Linked DNA regions of Homo sapiens. The protein of the gene in region 1 interacts with the protein of each later gene in a pairwise test. Each region holds a gene or a part of one and is shown on either strand. Other genes may lie near its edges.

The links.
Region 2: the proteins of DVL2 (region 1) and TLE5 interact in binary tests that used the Homo sapiens proteins (3 or more experiments, as listed by UniProt).
Region 3: the proteins of DVL2 (region 1) and ZNF165 interact in binary tests that used the Homo sapiens proteins (3 or more experiments, as listed by UniProt).
Region 4: the proteins of DVL2 (region 1) and TRIM29 interact in binary tests that used the Homo sapiens proteins (3 or more experiments, as listed by UniProt).

What each region holds. Positions count from the first base shown.
Region 1 is NC_000017.11:7,228,180-7,231,517, reverse strand, and holds part of DVL2 (segment polarity protein dishevelled homolog DVL-2), read left to right. Parts: intron 1-323; exon of another isoform or gene 324-637; intron 638-720; coding exon 721-790; intron 791-1,087; coding exon 1,088-1,233; intron 1,234-1,362; coding exon 1,363-1,472; intron 1,473-1,574; coding exon 1,575-1,710; intron 1,711-1,839; coding exon 1,840-1,930; exon of another isoform or gene 1,931-1,968; intron 1,969-2,070; coding exon 2,071-2,140; intron 2,141-2,243; coding exon 2,244-2,383; intron 2,384-2,472; coding exon 2,473-2,549; intron 2,550-3,338.
Region 2 is NC_000019.10:3,059,696-3,063,765, reverse strand, and holds the start of TLE5 (TLE family member 5), read left to right. Parts: upstream 1-1,270; 5' UTR 1,271-1,565; coding exon 1,566-1,592; intron 1,593-2,508; coding exon 2,509-2,606; intron 2,607-4,070. UniProt on the Homo sapiens protein: Transcriptional corepressor. Acts as a dominant repressor towards other family members. Inhibits NF-kappa-B-regulated gene expression. May be required for the initiation and maintenance of the differentiated state.
Region 3 is NC_000006.12:28,086,816-28,090,063, reverse strand, and holds the end of ZNF165 (zinc finger protein 165), read right to left. Parts: intron 1,502-3,248; coding exon 594-1,501; 3' UTR 501-593; downstream 1-500. UniProt on the Homo sapiens protein: May be involved in transcriptional regulation.
Region 4 is NC_000011.10:120,110,786-120,114,113, forward strand, and holds the end of TRIM29 (tripartite motif-containing protein 29), read right to left. Parts: intron 1,692-3,328; coding exon 1,629-1,691; 3' UTR 501-1,628; downstream 1-500.

The DNA.
Region 1 (3,338 bases):
GAAAGTATAAGAGTAGAGGCTTTGATGAGGACCAAAGCCTTTTTTGGAAGGTTTTTTTTTTTTTTTTTTTTGAGCCGCCCAGGCTGGAATGCAGTGGCGCGATCTCGACTTACTGCAACCACTGTCTCCCGGGTTCAAGCGACTCTCCCATCTCAGCCTCCTGAGTAGCTGGGATTATAGACACCCACCATCATGCCCGGCTAATTTTTGTATTTTAGTAGAGATGGGGTTTCACCATGCTGGCCAGGCTGGTCTTGAACTCCTGACCTCAGGTGATCCGCCCGCCTCAGCCTCCCAAAGTGCTGGGATTACAGGTGTGAGCCACCGTGCCTGACCTTTTTGGAAGGTTTGTAAGGAACAGGGGTGGGGTTGAGAGGAGGCCACCAGCCAGTCTCATTAGATAGGTATCTCAGGCAGCCGCATCAGCGTGCGGGATTGCTTTTGAAACTGGACTAAGAGGTTTGAGTCAGACTCAAGGAAGTCTTTGGAGCAGCACTGTGCCCCTGAGGGTGCGTTAGGGAGAGGAGAAATAAGGAAAGGGGATTGAGTTTGGAGATTTCTTAGGTGTCGGAGTGAGTTCTTTCAATGTAAGAGAAGACCTGAACAGGGCAGGAGAAAGTCAACATCCTGGAGCCAGGTGAAGATTGGGAGAAAGTTTGATGGGGGTCGGGGTGGGGATGGTTGGTCCAGCTCACTGACCTCTACCTTGTCGCTTGGCAGGGTGGTGAAGGAAGAAATTTCAGATGACAACGCCCGCCTCCCCTGCTTCAACGGAAGGGTGGTATCCTGGGTAAGAGGTTCTGACACCGAGGACCAGGCCCCCTCAGCATTGCCAAGCTCCCTCAAGCCTCAGTCTGTTTCTGTATCCTCCCCAGGCCGCGCGTTAGCAGCCCTGGCTCTTTACCTCCTGTCTGTTTGGAGAGCCGGCGAGAGGCCCTCAGCCTTCTCCTTCTGGAGTCTCTAATACTTGCTAGGTTTTTTTGCTCTTCTCCAGCTCTCTGAGACCCTTTCTCATTCTTTCACTTACTGCCACCTGTCACACCCTGACTCCCAAGTGAGCCACTGTTTATCATTTGCACCCTTCTAGCTGGTGTCCTCAGATAATCCCCAACCCGAGATGGCCCCTCCAGTCCATGAGCCTCGGGCAGAACTGGCGCCTCCAGCCCCACCTTTACCTCCTTTGCCACCCGAGAGGACCAGCGGCATTGGGGACTCAAGGCCTCCATCCTTCCAGTGAGTCCTTCAGATTCTTGACTGCAGGGGAGGGAGGTGAGGAGGGAACCCAGGCCTTTGGTAGGGGACGCCTAGGATCCGGAGCCCTGTTCTCCTGATGTGGGTTGGAAACCATCTCTGCCTGTCCAGCCCTAATGTGTCCAGCAGCCATGAGAATCTGGAGCCTGAGACAGAAACCGAGTCAGTAGTGTCACTGAGGCGGGAGCGGCCTCGCAGGAGAGACAGCAGTGAGCATGGCGGTGAGGGGCAGGCCTGGGGGCCGGGAAGGGCTGGGCCAGACCCCAGCCTTGGTGGGGTGAGCAGGGGGAAGCTTGGTTCTTGAGCTTCCTGTCCATATGTAGCTGGGGGCCACAGGACTGGTGGCCCCTCAAGGCTGGAGCGCCACCTGGCCGGATACGAGAGCTCCTCTACCCTCATGACCAGCGAGCTGGAGAGTACCAGCCTGGGGGACTCGGACGAGGAGGACACCATGAGCAGGTGTGGCTCCGCACAGCTCTCCCCAGCGCACCCAGCCCCGTCTCGTCTTCCAGTCAATCCTCTTGTTCTTTCTCTTGGCCCCATGACCACTTTGGCCTACGTTTGCTCTCCTTCCCAACCTCCTGGTAGGTTCAGCAGCTCCACGGAGCAGAGCAGTGCCTCCCGCCTCCTTAAGCGCCACCGGCGGCGAAGGAAGCAGAGGCCACCCCGCCTGGAGAGGGTGAGGGGTTCCTACAGGAAGGCTGGTGCTGGGAGAAGGTGGGGCATGGGCTTTGGTTTGGGCGGTGCCAGGACACCGGCAGCACCCCAGGGTTGACCCTGGGTTATTGAAGGGCACTCTGGCTCCTTTTCCCACCACAGACGTCATCCTTCAGCAGCGTCACAGATTCCACAATGTCTCTCAATATCATCACAGTCACGCTAAACATGGGTATGGGGAGAGCCTGTGGCTAGGGCGTGGGGAGGGCCTGGTCTCTAGGGTTCCGGGCGTCCTGTGGCAGGGGCTCCTCTTTTCACATGGCCTCTCTCCACAGAGAAGTACAACTTCCTGGGTATCTCCATTGTTGGCCAGAGCAATGAGCGGGGAGACGGAGGCATCTACATTGGCTCCATCATGAAGGGTGGGGCTGTGGCGGCCGACGGGCGCATTGAGCCAGGGGACATGCTTTTGCAGGTGTGCTGGGGTAGGGCCACTGAGCTGCCCTGCACGGGGGCCCTCAGCCTCTCCCACCGTGTCTCTGACCCACTTGCCGTCGCTTCCAGGTGAATGACATGAACTTTGAGAACATGAGCAACGATGACGCTGTGCGGGTGCTGAGGGACATTGTGCACAAGCCTGGGTGAGTTGCCAAGCAGGTTGCCGGTCCTCAGTCCTCTTTTTTTTTCTCTTTCATGTTTTGTTTTGGAATTTTAATAAGTACTAAGACAGCCGGGCGTGGTGGCTCGAGCCTGTAAACCCAGCACTTTGGGAGGCCCAGATGGGTGGATCACCTGAGGTGAGGAGTTCGAGACCAGCCTGACCAATGTGGTGAAACCGTGTCTCTACTAAAAATAGAAAAATTAAGTGGGCATGGTGGCACATGCCTGTAGTCCCAGCTAGTGAGGTGGCTGAGACAGGAGAATCACTTGAACCCTGGGGGGTGGAGGTTGCAGTGAAACGAGATCACGCCACTGCACTCCAGCCTGGGCGACAGAGCAAGACTCCGTCTCAAAAAAAAAAAAAAGTGCTAAGACATAACGTTCAAAGTACATGAAACAAATGCATGACATAGCAAATAATACTAGAGTAAATATCCATGTCACTGCCATCTAGATCATCAAATAGGAGATTGCTGATACCCTAGAACTTCCTCCTCAGATGTCCCTTCCTGCTCCCAAATGCCTCACTGCCCCAGGGGTAGTCACTCTCCTGACTTCTTTGGCCATCACCATAACAAAGAAAAGCTTTGCCTCACTGGATAGTTACCACCCTTGCACGTATCCTTGAACACTGCAGTTTCGTTTTACCTGTTTTTGGACTTTCTGTGAATGGAACTGTACAGCGTGTACTCTCTTGTCTCACTTGGCAGTATGTTTTTAAGAGTTTTCCATGTTGATGAGTCATCCACATTGTGGTGCCTTCCACCCTC
Region 2 (4,070 bases), on another chromosome or scaffold:
ACTAAAACTCCAAAATTAGCGGGGCGTGGTGGCACGTGCCTGTAATCCAGCTACTCGGGAGGCTGAGGCAGGAATCACTTGAACCCAGGATGCGGTGAGCTGAGATTGTGCCATTGTACTCCAGCCTGGGCAACAAGAGCGAAACTCCATCTCAAAAAACAAACCAACCAACCACCAGGTCCCGTCCCTCCTCCTCCCACAGCCTTCCAGGGCTCCTACCTCACTCAGAGCAAAATCCCAAGTCCTCCCCAAGACCCACAAGTCCTTGCTGGACTGGCCTGCTTCACCAGCTACAGAGTTAGCAGGGCCCAGTGCAAAAGAAAACTCAAAGGCCCCTTGTTCAAAAATGATTAGAAATCTCAAAATGCAGCAGTAAATATTAACCCAAGCACAAGCCCTGCTGTGGGGTGGGGGGGCCCTGGACAAAAGCACGAAGCCCCCGGCCCTGCCTCCCTCCGGCCTTCCTGACCTCCCCCCGGGCACTCTGCTGCCAGGCACAGTCCTGCCCCAGGGCCTTTGCACCTGTTGGTCCTGCCTCTGACTACCTCTGTACCCCATCCCCCTGTTCTCCCTCCTTCTTCAGGTCGCTTTAGGGGTGGAGGAAGCCGTCTCTGATCCTCCCTCCCACCTCTTTAACTTTGCACCTTCCTACCCTGCCATTCTCCCGGCTGGTTTTTCTGCAGAACTGTCCCCACCATCTGACCTGCCAGGAATTCAGCTTGTGAATTTGTCTCTGTCTGTCTCCAGGCACCACCACCAGGGCAGGGACCCACCCCCGCCCCGCCCCACCCCAGGGCCCTGGAGCAGCGGGGCCTGGCACACAGTAGGCGTTCTATAAATGTGTCACAAGAATGGCTTCCCTCAGGAAGGCGGCATTACCGCTGCCTTTCTGCAGAAAAGGAAACTAAGGCTCAGCAAGAACCACCGCCCAGCCAGAGCCAAGGTCACAGAGCACGTCCGTGGCACGCGTCCAGGTCGTGCCACAGCAGGGCCGGCGGCTTCGACGCGGGCAGCCGGGTCCCTTTTCTTTGACAGATGGGGAAACCGAGGCCCGGCCGGCTGCCGGGTAGGAGAGGGTGGCGGGGGCCGCTGCCCGGGGCGGGGGCGGGCCGGGCCCAAGGTCACCGCGGCGGGCGGGCCACGGGGAGGCGGGCCGGCGTGGGGATCCGCAGGCCTCCCCGGGCGCGCGCGTCCCCCCCCTCGGCGGCGCGCACGGGGCACGGGCGGCGGCAGGTGGAGCCGAAGCCTCCGCAGCAGCCGAGCCGCGGCCACTGCCGGCGTCGCCGCCATTAGACAATAGCGGTGGGGCCGGGGAGCGGGGAGGCGGGCGGCGGGGAGGGGCGGGGAGGGGCGCCGGGCGCGCAGGAAGCGGGGCCCGGGGCGCGCCGGGGCCGGGCGCGCGGGGAGGGGGCGCAGGAAGCGGGCGAGGCCGGGCGCGGGAGGCGGCGGCGGCCCCGGGAGCTGCCGATCGGCGCCGGGACAAAGGCGCGGCCGCCCGGCGCCCCCAGCAGCCCGAGCCGGGGCGCACAGCCGGGGCGCAGCCCGCGCCCCCCGCCGCGATTGACATGATGTTTCCACAAAGCAGGCATTCGGTAAGCGGGGCCCGTCCGGCCGGCGCCCCCACCCCGGATCCGGGCCCTACGCCCCCGACCCCCGGCTCCCGGCCCCGCGCCCCCCAACCCCCAGGCCCGGTGCCTCCGGCCCGGCGCCCCCCCCAACTCCCCGGCCCTGTCTTCCCTCTCCAGCTCCCAGCCCGGCGCGACCCCCCTCCCCTCCTGCCGCCGGCCCCCGGACACCCCCCCTCCAGTTCCCGATCCACCCCAGCTTCCGGGCCCCGAGCCCCCCCGCCGCAGCTCCCGGCTTGGCGCCCCCCCCCCCCAACCCGCCGGGACAGTCAGGGCCTCGGACGGCCTTGGCCTCGGGCCTGGGGCGCTCCGGAAGCCCCGCGAGGCACCTCTAGCCCGGGGATCCTTTGGGGGCCTGTGGTGGGGGGGGTGATCCGAGGCGCACCCCTCCCGGAAGAGCGTGTCCCCGAGGAAGGGCGCTGGGAATCTGGGGTTGGGCCCCCCCGGAAGATTTCGAGCACCGAGAGAGAGACCCCTCCCCCAAGAGGACTTTGCAGGGAGGAATCGCTGCCCCCCAACTTGGGGAGGGGGCTCCCTAGGGCGCGTTTCTACCCCCCTCGGATGTGCACTCCCTCCCGGCGCTTTGGAGGGCGGTAGAGGGCGCACCCTGCCCCCCATCTAGGGCGGGCCTTAAAACGCACCCCCACTGCCTGGGGGTGGCGGGGGACGGGGCGGCTCCGGGCGCACCCACCCGCTCGGCTTCCCCCGGGAGAGGCGGGGGGCAGGAAGCGCGGGTGGGGTCGCGCCAGGGGCCGTAAACACGGGCCCAGGAAGTGGGGCAGGAGGGGGGGCGCCGCAGCTGCGCGGCCGCTCCCTCCTAGCCGGCCCTTGAGGGGGGTCCAGCCCACGCCTGGGCCTGACCCGGGCCGCCCCATCCCTACAGGGCTCCTCGCACCTACCCCAGCAACTCAAATTCACCACCTCGGACTCCTGCGACCGCATCAAAGACGAATTTCAGCTACTGCAAGCTCAGTACCACAGGTGAGCTGGGGGACTGGGGGTCCCTGCGTCCCGAGAATGTGAGTCCCCCCATTTCTTCTGCGCAGATGGCAAGGCTGAGGCCTGGAGATTGGGAAAATAATATATGCTAGACTCTGACCTAATCACTTGACAAATACTGAATTCATTTATTTTAAACAGCCCCATTTTGTAGAGGAGAAAACCGAGGCACAAAAATAGTTAAATAATTTGCCCAAAGATTCAGCTGTGTGGCTTCAGAGCCCCTCCCTCCTCCCCAATACCCCCAAGTCCCCCATTGGATAAAAGACCTTCCAACAATTGGAGTTACGGCACGGACTCGCCATCCCTCAACCCCCAAAACAGAAACATTCTGCAGCCTGGTCATCTCTCTCTTTGCCCAGTTTTGGAGAAAGGGTTCCCAGCACCCGTCAGATTCTCCAAGGTGCTGCTTCTTTCAGAAATCTGGCGTTTCTGAAGAGCTTGCCACGCTGCGGTATCTAAGGGGAAGGAACTATTTAGTCCTCTTACACTTAAAGAAACTTAAGCCCAGGCCAGGCGTGGTGGCTCATGCCTGTAATCCCAGCACTTTGGGAGGCCGAGGAAGGTGGATCACTTGAGGTCAGGAGTTCGAGACCAGCCTGGCCAACATGGTGAAACCCCGTCTCTACCAAAAATACATAGTTAGCTGGGTGTGGTGGCGGGCGCCTGTAATCCCAGCTACTCGGGTGGCTGAGGCAGGAAACTTGCTTGAACCCGTGAGGCGGAGGTTGCAGTGAGCAGAGATGGAGCCACTGCTCTCCAGCCTGGGTAACAGGGAGACTCTGTCTCAAAAAAAAAAAAAAAAAAAAAAAAGAAAGAAAAAAAGAAACTTAAGCCCAGAGATGTTATGATGTTATTTCCTCGGGGGTGTCCATAGCATTGAGGAAGTGGCAAGGCTGAGGTTTGCACCAGGTCTCTCTCCTGGTTTAAGGATATAGGTTCTCGCCTGCCCTGCTCTGGAGGGGCACGCCGGGCCTGGGAATCTGGAGAAAGTCAGGCTATGCTCAAACCCCCGTTTGGCCTTGGGGCCCTCTCTAAACTGAAGCGTGCCCACCCCAGAAGTGTTCCTGGAAGGATCCTGGATTTCCTCCAAGTAGAAAGGGGAATCTCGATTTTGTTGTTGCTGCTGCAAATATCCCACCTTTTTGGGTACTCCCTGTGTGCTCAAGACCGTTCGTGCCTCCTCGTGCTTCATCCTTCCTGTCGTCCGACTGTCGTACCCATTCTCAAGCTGGGCAAACTGAGACACTGACAGTCGAAGGTGCTGGAGTCAGCTTTCCATGCAGGCCCCAGAAGCTTTTGTGCGGGTTCCTCGATATGAAGGGTTGGATACCGCCTGGTGAGCCCCGGGGCTGACCTGATTCCACAGGGAAGGGATCAGATGGCGGTCACAGTGCTGTGTGACCTCTGCTAAGCCGGAAGCCCTCTCTGAGCTTTGGGGTCTCC
Region 3 (3,248 bases), on another chromosome or scaffold:
ATTCTGGCCTCTTCCCTGGGGTGTTCTTCTGGTTTTTTACTTCCTGGTATGACCTCTGGACACAGATTTTGGCCTCATATAGGAATGCCACCATTACATATGTCCTCATTTGACATTACTCTCTAACTTAACATGAGCATCTTAGTTTTGTGGTCTTCAGTTTTTAAAGGGATGCTCTGAAAACACTGTTCTGCAGTGCACTGTGCAACCTATTTCACTCCTGGGTTTAGCTGACCTCTTCTTGTGCTAAACTAACTAGGAAAATAAACTAGGACTGATTATCAGTCTCTTTACCTAAATCTTCCTTTTCTTCCCACACTGTAATCATGATTATTTCCCCAGACAGTCTCTATTTCTCTACATTGCACTGCCATAGACTACCCTATTAGCCCCCCTAAATGTAGCTCTTTTGGTTTGACTTTAGTAGTCAATGAAAGAAGGGGTACATCCCCAGTCTCACAGAAAGCACATACACACAGATTGAACACCAGAAACTGGTCTTTCAGTCTTCCATCTTGCCCAATATTTATTTTTTATTTAATATTTTTCATATTGTGCCATTTCCTCAGCATTTACTTACAAATTTAAGTTCCTTACATTAATAGGTTTTCCCTCATGTGAATTCTCTGGTGTTGACTAAGGTTTGAGCTCTGACTGAAGGCTCTTCCACACTCACTGCATTCATAGGGTTTTTCTCCAGTGTGAATTCTAAAGTGTCGAATAAGATGTGAGCTCACTCGGAAGGTTTTCCCACATTCACTACACTCGTAGGGTTTCTCTCTGGTGTGAATTCTCTGATGCCTGATAAGATGTGAGTTCAGGTTGAATGCTCTCCCACATTCTTTGCAACCAAAGGGTCTTTCCCCAGTGTGAATTCGCCGATGTCTAGTAAGATCTGAGCTCTCTGCAAAGCTTTTCCCACATTCATTACATTCATAGCATCTCTCTCCAGTGTGGATTCTCTGATGCCTAGCAAGTTTTGAGCTGTGCCTGAAAGCTTTCCCACATTCATTACACTGATGAGTTTTATCTCCACTGAAAACTGCTGCATGTTTAGCAAGTTTTGGGCTCTTGAAAGATTTTCCATATTGGTGATTTTTTTCTCCAGCATAAATTATTTGATGGTTAATAAAATCTGAGTTCCATTTGAAGCTCTGGTCACAGGTACCATGTTTACAAGATTTCTGGTGTGTGAATTCATTTGAGTTCAGATTTAATCTCCTCTCACATCCATCGTGGCTTATTATTTCACCTCTGACTGTATTTTTGTGGGTGAGGATTTTACCAAAACCTTCATCCTGGGCAGACGAGAGTCTCTGAGACTCCCCTGATTCTTTTTCCCATTGTCTCTTTACCCTGCCTGCAGACTTACAGATGTCTTGAGACTCACCAGATGCTTCTGATATGTATCCTGAGATTCTTCCAGATATAATTCTCTGTGATTCAATTTTTTCAAAAATTTCCAGCTTTGGCATGGATCTACTGTTTTCACTCTCATTATCTAAAATAAAAAAGAAAGGGAAATATTACCTGTTTGCTGCACGAAAAGAAAATTTTATAGCATGCTCAAGATAGTTACATATTGATATGCCCACTTTAATATATGACCTTTCACATGAGAGGAATGATAGAATGAAAGAGGATGATAGGAATGAAAGAAACATTGGTAAGAGCAAGTAATGCCTGCAGTGGTTGGCAGAGAGAGGAATCAGACGTGAAGCATATATATTAGAAAAGATTGGGAGGATTGTCATCAGCAAGAACTCAAGAGATAGGGGGAGATAGAGTACGGAGAAGGAACTCTACAATGTTGACTGCAGCAGATCTTGGGAACCTTGGGTCTATGATACATTTCTAGAGGGAAAATGGAGGCACTACCTCAAAGAAAGCAGATGAGAACACAAGAGAGAAAAGTAAAGCTATAAGTGACTGTGAAGTATGTGTGAGAAAACTTCCATCCACCTATTGTCTATTTCTTCCTCATATTCCATGGTTAATCAGTCTTCTAAATTCTGTCATCACTGTCCACTAAGTGTCCCTTGTATAAATCCCTTCCTTTATATTTCTGCTACCATCGCCATAGTCTCGAACCTTACCATTTCCTATCTAGACTTTAACTGCCTCCTTGCTGTTTTGACTCTGCACTTTTCTTCTTCCTAGTTATCCTAAAGATCCTTACTAGACTAATGGTCATTAAACACTGCCATCCTTTCATACCCTACTCAAAAACCTTGAATCTCTCTCTCTCTTTTTTTGTTCAAGTCTAAATTCCCAAGCCTGGTTTCCAAGATCCATTTATGATCCAGTCTTCACAAATCCCACTCTATACTGTGCTGGAATTGAACCGCCCTTCTTTATTATAAGCTGTCCTTTGTCTACAATACGCTAGGGCAGGAAAGAGGGTTAGGGAGTGCTGTTCATGGGGTGAGGGAAATTTACAATTTTATATACGACAGATGGAGATGTTTCCAGAACAAAACTGAAGGCAGAATATGTAGAAATTTATTAAAAATTAATTGTGGCCAGGCTCCGTGGCTCATGTCTGTAATCCCAGCACTCTGGGAGGCCAAGGCGGGCGGATCACGAAGTCAGGAGTTTGAGACCAGCCTGGCCAACATGGTGAAACCCCGTCTCTACTAAAAATACAAAAATTAGCCGGGCATGGTGGCAGGCACATGTAATCTCAGCTACTCGGGAGGCTGAGGCAGGATAATTGCTTGAACCCAGGAGGTGGAGGTTGCAGTGAGCTGAGATCACGCCACTGCACTCCAGCCTAGGTGACAGAGCAAGACTCTGTGTCAGGAAAAACAAAACAAAACAAAACAAACAAACCAAAAAATTAACGGTAAGTTATTCTTGGGTTTACTATAGGGACAATTCACACCTTAAGTGATACTGCATCTATGAATCTTTTAAATAGATGAGTTTTAGAACAGAGATGAGTATTCTGTGGAAGTAGTCTCTAGAACTATAGCTAACTTTCTATAAAAGTGTAAAAGAGCTTTATAAGACCAAGAGCATAACAGGAAAAATATGGATCACGGTCTATGTTACTTGTGAATTATATACTATTTCTCAGTATATCATCATGTATCTGTTTCTCTTGATCATTATATGTACTTCTCTATGAACATATTTTGCTTCTGTCCATGTATTTCTTTTTCTTTTCCTTCTTTTCTCTTTTCATGATATTTTCTCAACTCATTCACTTTTATTTCCTTTAATTTGGTCATATCATAAAAATGTTC
Region 4 (3,328 bases), on another chromosome or scaffold:
ATGCTGTCTTCAGGAGCCTGACCCTCCTGCCAGCCTCAAAGGGGAGCTCTCCTTCCCAGAAGGCCCTCTGTGCACTGAGAAGGCCCTCAGGTCTGAAGCCTCCAGTGGACTTCCACTCCAGCCTGCGTCTGAGCACCAGAGTGCTTGGCTCCCAGCCACTTCTGGGCCCTTCTCCCCCTGGGAACTCTAGGGTGGGCCGGCCAGAAGGTCTGAGCATGGCAGAAGGTATTGAGCATATCCCCAGGCCCACACCCCACTGTCATTCTCCCTGTGTTCATTGTTAGCCAAGGCGTGCCTCCCTGAGGCCCAGGTTCCTGCACTGCACCCCCTGTGTCCCAGACAGGGTGAGGGAGGTCAAGGGAGTTTCAAAGGAGCCACGTTTCTGAGAGGAGAGCAGGAAGATGACCGTGCCTTCATCAGAGGGAAAAAGTGCATTCAGAAGAACTGCAGCCTGTTCCTCTGGGGACCCTCAGGGAAATGGTCATTCAATACAAGAGAAGTGACAGACCAATGGTTTATTCCAAAGGGGAAAGCCCAAGCTGGATGTCTCCCTCCCCAACCCCTGCAAGCTGGCCCATCCTTCCAGAGCCCCCATAGGCCTGGGGCTGTTGAGACGGGAGATGTCCCCACTGTGCTGCTCCTGGTTTTGTCTCCTCTCCAATCCTTGAGCACCCTGATATGCAACATGGGGGGTAATCAGAAGGAGGAGGCAGCCTCTGATGGGGCAACGGCTGAGGGTGGGGGCAGTGTGTAAGGCACCTTTTGCGGTCAGCCCAGCCACACTCCATCGCCAGAGAGAATGCCAAAGTGTAGACTGAATGAAATTCTGTAGGCAAATGGTAAATGGTAGCTGGGCCAGTAGCTATTTGCATGGGTGGATTATATCATGTTAAGGGAATTCTTTATCTCAGCAGAGGGAACAGAGGAATATCTTGGCTAAGGTCATCCTGCCAGTCAGGAGAAGCCACCCTCCAGGGACCACAGACTCAAAGTGGCTGTGGTGGAGACCCACCGCCTGGGTAGGGTGATGTCAAGACACTGAGAGGTTTCCATCTGCAGTGGCCAAGGGCTGCAGGTTCTGCCATGCTGGGCATTGATAGGTAGGACGAGAGAGAGCACGTAGGGCCAGTCCTCTGGGAAGCAGGAGGTGGGCCATGTGAATGGGAGATGGGTGGCTGTGCTGTCCAGGCATCTGCTGACAACATTGGGGGATAGGGCCTTGGAGAGAAACGTCTATAGGCCTGGAGACAGCAGGGCGTGGGCGGGAGAGGCAGGCTGATACCATGCGGGTACTCACTGCTAGCCCCCAGATCCAGCCCGAGAGGAGGAGGCTGGCGGGTTAGGGCAGGCCCCAACCTATCTCACCCCTGTGATGGGTTGGCCTCTGAGCACAGGAATGATGGTGACCATCTGAGGTCACAAGGCAGGAAAGGAGTCTGAATGGAGTGTGGCCAGTGGGGAAGTCGGAGAGGCCGGAACTGCCCCCAAGAGGCTGGCAGAGGGCTGCAGAGGGCAGGTGCAGGACCAGGCTCCCTCCCACCCAGACAAGCACAGTAGCTTAGAAGGCAAGAGCAGCAGGGTCAGGAGGAAGAGCAGGGGTGTGGCGCCTCGTTCCTTCCGCCAGGAGCTCATGGGGCTTCGTTGGACCCAATCCCGTTGCCTTTGTTGACGTAGAATGGCCGGTAGTGAGACTGTGGGGGAAACAAGAGTGGTCAGCGAGGCCAGACGACAGATGAGCCTGCTAGCTAGACCCACCCTACCCTAACCTGCCTCAGGAGGCAGCAGTGATCCAAGACCCGACAATTCTAGGGGCCTTTTTGGCCTGATCTGCAAGATTTACCTACCCTGTGATCAGGGGCTGGTCCCTAATGTCAGGATCTCCAGATTGGAATCCTAATTGGAGTCCATTCCCATAGTTAGTGGGTGAGCTTGAACCTCAGCCCCCGCATTACACTGGTCGAAATTTCTCTCCACAGCTCAAGGAGGTTCCTCCAGCGCCACCACAGCTACTATTTATATAGCACTTTCTACTCCACAGAACTTCACAGCACTGTGTCGAGGGCTGTATGTGGATGCACTCATTTAATTTTTACAACCACCCAATTAAATAGATTACTATTATCATATTCAATTTATAGTTGAGCAAACCAAGGCACAGAGAGGCTAGGCAACTTGCCCAAGGTCACTCAGCTGGTAAGCAAGGAGCCAGAATCCAAGCCCCAGCAGGCTGCCTCCAAAACCCACACCCCCAGCTGCCAGTTCTCGGCATCACTTCTCTTATGGTGAGGGCTTCCAGGATTTTCTTTGCCTCTCTCTGCATAAATTTCCCTTACAGAAAGGGTGCAGAGAGGGTAAAGAACTGCCCCAGTCCAACACGGTCCCAGGCTCCCCACAGCCCTTTGCCTCTCTCGTCCTGTTCCTCTTCCCCCAGCCATTGGTACAGGGAGCATCTCTGGAGAGAGAGCCCAGTGACAGCTCTCCCAGCCTTCTCCATGTATTGTATCTCCCAGTAATTTCATGAAATCAGCATGCCCCACCCTGCCCAGATAACTTCATCAGGGCCCTGAGGAGGCAGCCCTCCAGGATGGAGTGGAAGAGCACAGCTTAGCTGCTGCTCACCCACGCAAGCACCATCAGCCCCCGGGGGTCTCAGGAAGAGGATTTGTCCCTGAGCTGGGTCAGAGACTGAGCCCACTCCCATGCCCTGCAGATCCCAATACAGGAGACATCATTTGCCCCTCACACACACACCTCAAGGGTACACTGCCTTTGGCCCTGTCTCTCAGGGAACTGACACCTCCTGGTCAGCTCCTTGCCTTTGTGTGGTCCACAGCAGGACTTGAGGGATGCTCAGACCTTGCTTAAACCACCTATTAAACAAAGGAAGAAACTGAGACCCAGGGAGGGGTAAGAACAGCTACTTACTGGCAAAGCAGAGCCTGGACCAGGTCTCCTGACCCCCAGGGGCCAGCCTGGACCCCAAGCAATTCATAGGGCAAAGTGAACAGATTTGGAAATGGCTGAAGCCTTTCTTTGAGGAAGATTGGGTCAATAATATGGGTTGCAGGTCAATGAATGGCATTGTCTGGTTAAAAGCCTGGAGTGGTAGGTGGGCATCAGGGCAAAATGCTACCTTCACCCTCCCATCCCCTCCCTGGCTTGAGGTCACAGCACATACAGCAGGTGGAAGAGCTGCAAAATCATCCTAATTATGGATGGGAAAACTGAGGCACAAAGGAATCATTTTTCCTCATGCAAAGTCACACAGCAAGTCAATGAGACAGCTGGGGCCAGCCCCCAGGGAAATTGATTCCCAGCTCAGCTTCTC